Linked DNA regions of Homo sapiens. The protein of the gene in region 1 purifies or fractionates together with the protein of each later gene. This does not show direct contact. Each region holds a gene or a part of one and is shown on either strand. Other genes may lie near its edges.

Region 1 (2,821 bases):
TTTACTCTTCAGTTTTGTTATCCAGGCAGTTAGCCATTCAGTGTCACACTAGATGCAGCAGTGAGGCAGCTTCCAGGATATTTTCTCTATGGTATCTTTCCATCTCAGCGAAGAGGAGTCTAACAGGACCATTAACCATGTATGAACTGTAAACACAGCAGCAGGGGAAGAAAAATATCTACAATCATCTCAAAATAGAGGTCTGAGCCCCAGTTCAGTTGCATGACTAGACTGTACACTAACACCTGGATCTCATTCCCTTCAAGGATTTGCTGTTTGGGAAAGTCTTAGATGAATAAAACCTTTCCAGTCAATTGTTTGAACTCTTCGTTCCCTCCCATTCCACAACACAATTATTTTAGTACATAAGCATGCTGATTGTTATTAAATTAATTTTCATCCTAGCCTCAAATTTTAAAAAAATTTACAATAAATTGACTAGTAACATTTTTCCCATCTTCCCCTTCTTTGTGGATTATCATATCATAATGTCAAGCAAATGGGTGATTTATATTTTATTGTTATATGTTGACATCCTCAGTAACAATGTTAAATAAATATTTGCTTTAATTTGCTTAGAACAAGTACATTGCATGAAGTTTGTATAATTATTATAGGTCACAAAAAAACAGAATCTTCTTCACATTTATCATAGTAGTTGTTTGGAAATGAAAATAAGGATATATCTTGGCTTCTTTCTGGATTTCCTTAACTTAGTTCCCATACTTCCTAAATGATGAAGTGATTGGTATTCTGCTGTCTTTGCTTGACCTTTCATAATGAATATGATCATTTCTAATATTCCACTAAGAAAAACACCTAATACTTTTCTGTGCCAATAAAATGTAGGGGATTTTTTTCTTCTTATATTTTCTTTCACTCCTTGTTCTGCACCTTGAAAATGGATATTTGCTGAAATGAGAGGAGCTGAGGAACTGAAGAAAAGGAGTGCTTCAAATTGTATATATGCATTACAAATTTATGTCAACAAGTCAAAATTCTGACAAAACTTCTAGAGAACAAATGAATACAGGCTGTAATGTAATATTGTATTATCTATTTCTCTATGTACATAAAGTTTCAACTATTGCTCACAGATGACAGAGTTGATCTGGCAGAAGCAGGATGCTTATGTGCGGAACAGAGCTGGGAAGAAAATACATGCATCAAGCAAACAGTTTATTGAGATCAGTCAAATCTAGCTGTTTTGCAAGTCTTCTCCAATTCTGTATCTCTAAAAATGGCCTCCACACCCAAAAAACAAAAAAAAATGTTATCTGTTCCATGAGGCTTTTCTCTCTTAGATACCAGTTTTTGAAGTAATCCAGTCCCGCAAGGCCGTAACTCTAGTATAAACACCAGGCTTGTTGGGTTTCGCACATTCATCTCCCCAGCTCACTATTCCAGCAAGGTACCAGATATCTCTAGCATCTGAACTAACCAGTGGTCCTCCAGAGTCACCCTAAAGGAGAAGACAGAAATTAGTAATTCATAATTCAGTTCATTACAGAGGAATTGGCTATTTTTCTAACTTAAGAATGTAATGAAAGGGGTAATTTTCAAAAGTATTCCGTGTGTTCGCATGCATAAGTGATTTTCTCCATCTATGTCAGTTATCCACCTAAAAGAGGACCTCCAATACCTTGAAAACTGATGAGATTGAAACCTTGAAACCTTGAAATACCTTGAAACCTTCAAAACAATGAGATTGAAGCCTCCATCTCTTTGAAGAACTGTACTCTTAACTTATGTGACACATCTGACAAAATAACTCCCTAATTATTTTGTCTATACTCTTTATTAGTGTAACATAACCCCCCAAAAAAGGGAGTGAAGAGTCTATTACTGATTTTAAAAAAACAAACAAACAAAAAAAAACAGACATTAGAGTCAGACACCAGGGTTTCTATCTCAAGTTTGGCCTTTCCATGCTGGCTAAGACCTTTAATTTATTTATCTGTAAATGCTCCTAATAATACCTACCTGTGATGAGTGCTATGAAGATGATGTAAGACAGTGAATGTAAAGTGCTTAGTCTAGCAAAAGGCAGAACTTAGGAAATGCATATATAAAATCACAAATTCTCATTATTTATATCCTGCAAACTCCAGAGTTTTGATTCTTTATATGGCTTGTAATAATGAGGTACTGGCTGATTATTCCTCAAGATCCTGGCGCTTCTAATTATTGACCACCCATTAAGTATTCATACTCACTCTATGAAGTTCTTAATTGATTAAAATATTATCTCATTAATTCATGTAATTCTTGTTTACAAAAAACATAGAACTAGGTTAATTTTTTCTGGGTTACTAAGAAAACTGAAACTCAGAAACATTAAGTAATTTGCCTGAGATCACGTGCTAATCAGTGGCAGACCCCGAATTTGAATCCAGAGCGATCTAATTCAGAAGCCCATGCTTTTTTCCCTACGTTATGCTAACTTCCTTGTGAATTTTCTTTTGTCCATTTAAAAAATTAACTAATATAATAGTAAATTTGAAATAATACATTTGTGATTTTAAATCAACTAACCAATAAGCATTTACTGATACCCTCGTATGTAGGAGGAGATATAAAAAGAGTATTATAAACACATGGATCTTGTCCTCTAGAAACCTGCAATCTGCTTATAGAAATAAGATATGCCATATGAAGCTATTCAAAAATAAATAATTTTGATAATAAAATCCCAAGTCTATATGCAGGCAGAGAAAATCAGGATAGAGAAATAGAAGATACAAGAGAAAACAAAGCTTTAATCAGCATAAGAGACAGGAATAAATGAGTCCGAGAATAAATAATTATTTTAAAGAGATAG
Region 2 (3,500 bases), on another chromosome or scaffold:
GGCTTTATTGCATGGTTTCTTTCTCCTTTAGCTAAAGTGACAAGTGGAGAGAAGAAGTTATGGGGACCAGAGTAGTTGAAAAATGTTTTTGAGCCAGCCTAGATGGAAGAGCAGGATGAGTGGAAGAGACGAAAAATATCTGAGGAAGGGGAGATCCGATTGGATGGATATGCTGGGTCCAGATTAGGGAAGGCCATCAGAGTCCAAGGGAAAAGCCTGGATCACAGGAGCCATTGATGGTTCTTGAGAAGGGCAGGTCCAGGAAGAAAGCTGTCATTTAGGAAGATGTGTCCTTAGTATGTTGACCGAATTGTGGCAGGAATTGATGGAGGCAGGGGTCAGCTAGGAGGCTGCACAGCCATCCCAGGGTGACAGTAGTAGCAACAGCAGAAATAGAGAGGATAGAGGGGCATTTCAAAGGCCAGATAATAGGACTTGGTGCCAGATGGAAGAATGGGAATAGCAAGGGGTGAATTCAGGGAAACTGATGGACAGAGCTGCCCCTGACGGAGATAGGCCAGTTGGGAAAAGAACTTTGAACCTTTGCTAAGGGAGAATCTATGCTCTTCCTCAAACTCCTGCACCCTTCTTGGGTACAGATAGATTTGAGGCCTGAACCCTAAAGCTGAGCCCTGAATCACAAGGTCTAAGGTCAAGGAGCCCTGTGCTGGTGCTGGAGTGGGAGTGAGGGGTAGAATTACGTCCCTCTAGGACGCCTACCTACCGATCATAGTCCATGACTGAGATGAGCAGGCTGACTTGATCCATGTTTTCCGGGGGAATGTCAAAGATGATGGCCTCATTGTAGACAGGATTGAGAGTGTTTTTCTTTATGGTTGTTTTCTTCTTCTTCAGCCTCCGCCCATCACAGAGCAAGGACACTTTCACATAGGGATCTGTGCCAATGGGGACAGAGAAAAGGGAATGGAGTATGTTAAACAGATGTCTGCAAACATCATTTGCAGCAAAGGGACCGAAGCCCTAGACCTACTGCTGCTCATCAGATGGTATCAGTGGGTTGTTAAAATAATTAAACCACCTTGTATTTATGTAGCACACCTGTCTCTGAGGACACTCTGTGCTTAATAAATGCAGAGTCTTTAGCTACCTCAGTATTCTTGGGAGAGCGCCTAATGGACTTTTACTAATGGGGAAGCTGGCCCCATATCAGACATGACACCTGCCGATAGGTATGCAGTTCACAGCCCTAAATCTCAGCTCGTCAATCCCTGGCTGACTCAAAAAGGTGATGAGGCTGAACAATGACACTATTTCTTTTACCTATGTGGAGTACTATTCTTTGAGTGGCTTTTTTGTTTTACCAGAATTACAAACCAAAGGATAAAGGTTTTGGGGCGGGGTAAAAATAGGACTCAACAATGGCCAGGGAGACACAATGTGTCAGAGTGAAATGAACAGCAACAATCACAATGCTGTTCATGTCCTCCCCACCTGACAACATAATTTTGGGTCCCATTGTCTCAATAATCCCATTTCCATTTGGCATCTAGAAGGCGTGAAGTGGCCCTGCTCTCTGCTTCCCTGGAAGCCATTTCCTGCCCACTTCTGGACAGTGGAGAATGAGGGAGCTGTGGCCCGGGGAGACTCAGGGCAGCTGGTTGACATTTCCTTTCTCAGTGGGATCTTGGATTCTCTCCATCCTGCAAAGAGATGCTTTTATTGAACTTCCATGTGCCTCCCATCCTTTTGTTTTCTTTAGTTTTCTGAATGGGTATTTCATGGTCATCTTTCTACCCTGAAATTTTCTACTCACCCAAGTGAAGTGAAACCTAGTGTATCTCATAGCACAGGTGTCTCGGTCACCATCATAATTGTTATTTATGCTGCACAGCTCAAGAAATGGGAGGGCGGCTCACAGGTAATAATAGCTTTCGAGACGCTGATGTGCTGAGACACCTTGTTGCCCAGAAGCCAGGGCTCCTGTGAATCTGTCAGGAGGTGCCAGCCAAGCAGCTGCTCCCCAGCTCTGTGATTCATAGGCATATGGTTCTATCTCCTGGACATCGAGCACCCACTAGGGCCCTGTACTCCCTGGCATCATTCAGATGGCAGATGAGGCACACATCCCTGGTGGAAATTAGGGAGAACTGTGACACCTGATCAGAAACTCCAAGCCTGAAAGGCATTTTTGTAGACACCTAAATGAGCTGCCGACTAATCCATGTGGCAGCAGTAGCTATGCCTTAACCATGGGGAGATGAGGTTGGGTTTATGGAGAGACCATGAGGTGTTTAATCAACCTGCTGTCTCAAACTACACATTTGAAAGGACCCTCTCTTAGGGATTTTCAGTAAAATGGAAGTAAGAGTTTTGAGAACCGGCATGAGGCTCTGGTTTCCACAGATTCCATTCTCTATGGATATGCCCCAGGACATTATTCAGGTTCAGGTAGACAGATGGGCAGAGCTAGCCCCAATACCTGTCTTTAACACAGCAGCTTGCAAAATCCATAAGGATGTACCTTTTCTTGCAAAGTGGCTCCAGACTTGAGGTTGCTCAGGTGCCGCCTCATTCCCCTGCTCTACCTATTTCCATACACTCCCACATCAGGGCAGATTTCCATATCATGAGGCTTGGAAAAATAGAGGCAGAGCCACTTGTCCCATGGGCCACTGAGCAAATGTCTTAGCAACCTTCCCCAACTCTGTTCATCCTTACAAGGCATATCCATTTTTTTTTAAGAGACAAGGTCTTGCTGTTTTGCCCAGTCTGGTCTTGAACTTCTGGGCTCAAGTGATTCTTCCACCTCACCCTCCCGAGTAGCTGGGATTACAGGCATGAGCTACTGTGCCTGGCTGATATGAAATTTATAAAATTCAGTGCACATATTTCCCTTGCAGGAACCAACACTTTCACCAGCATCCATGAAGCCAAGCAGACAGATGACCGTTCCCTAGGCTTTTCTGGGGCAAAAGTCTGCGGTTTCTAGTGGAATGCTGGCCCCAGATGATCTTGGAGGTCCTTTCCTCTCTAACAGCCTATGATGCTCTACGCAGCTGAGGGAGGGGACACAAAGACCAGCAGTGTATTTCAGCCTCATTGTCATGGGAGCAATCAAAATCCAGCATTTAGAATGTGCTCACCACCCCTTTGTAGCATACTGGTCCTTATTATTATTTTGTGCTATTTTTAGTGTCATGGTTCTAGCAGATAGGCTTAGAGAATTGATTCAGGGCTAGTTTAGATCATTGAGAATAGGAAGATCCTGGGTTTTAGACATCAATGCCACACAATTCAAGAATAGGCAATTAATAAGCTCCATTCAATACCTAGCTTAGTCCAACATCGAATAAGTCTGGGCTGAGGGAAACCTCAAACTCATCCTCAAGAACAGGAGATCTAGTTCGAGAGGCTCCTAGCAAGTACACCCCCACTGCTTCACCCTTGGGCCAGGTTCCTCATGCTGTAAATTCAACCATCCATTCATTCGGTATCTATTTATTGAATGCTTACTGTGTTTTATCCACTGTTCCAGATAC

What was found. The genes of interacting proteins can lie anywhere in the genome.
Region 2: the proteins of TMPRSS11E (region 1) and SYT6 purify together in Homo sapiens (affinity purification with mass spectrometry; one large-scale study listed by BioGRID and IntAct). This does not show direct contact.

Annotation. Positions count from the first base shown.
Region 1 is NC_000004.12:68,495,284-68,498,104, reverse strand, and holds the end of TMPRSS11E (transmembrane protease serine 11E precursor), read right to left. Parts: intron 1,463-2,821; coding exon 1,301-1,462; 3' UTR 501-1,300; downstream 1-500.
Region 2 is NC_000001.11:114,098,370-114,101,869, forward strand, and holds part of SYT6 (synaptotagmin-6), read right to left. Parts: intron 897-3,500; coding exon 725-896; intron 1-724.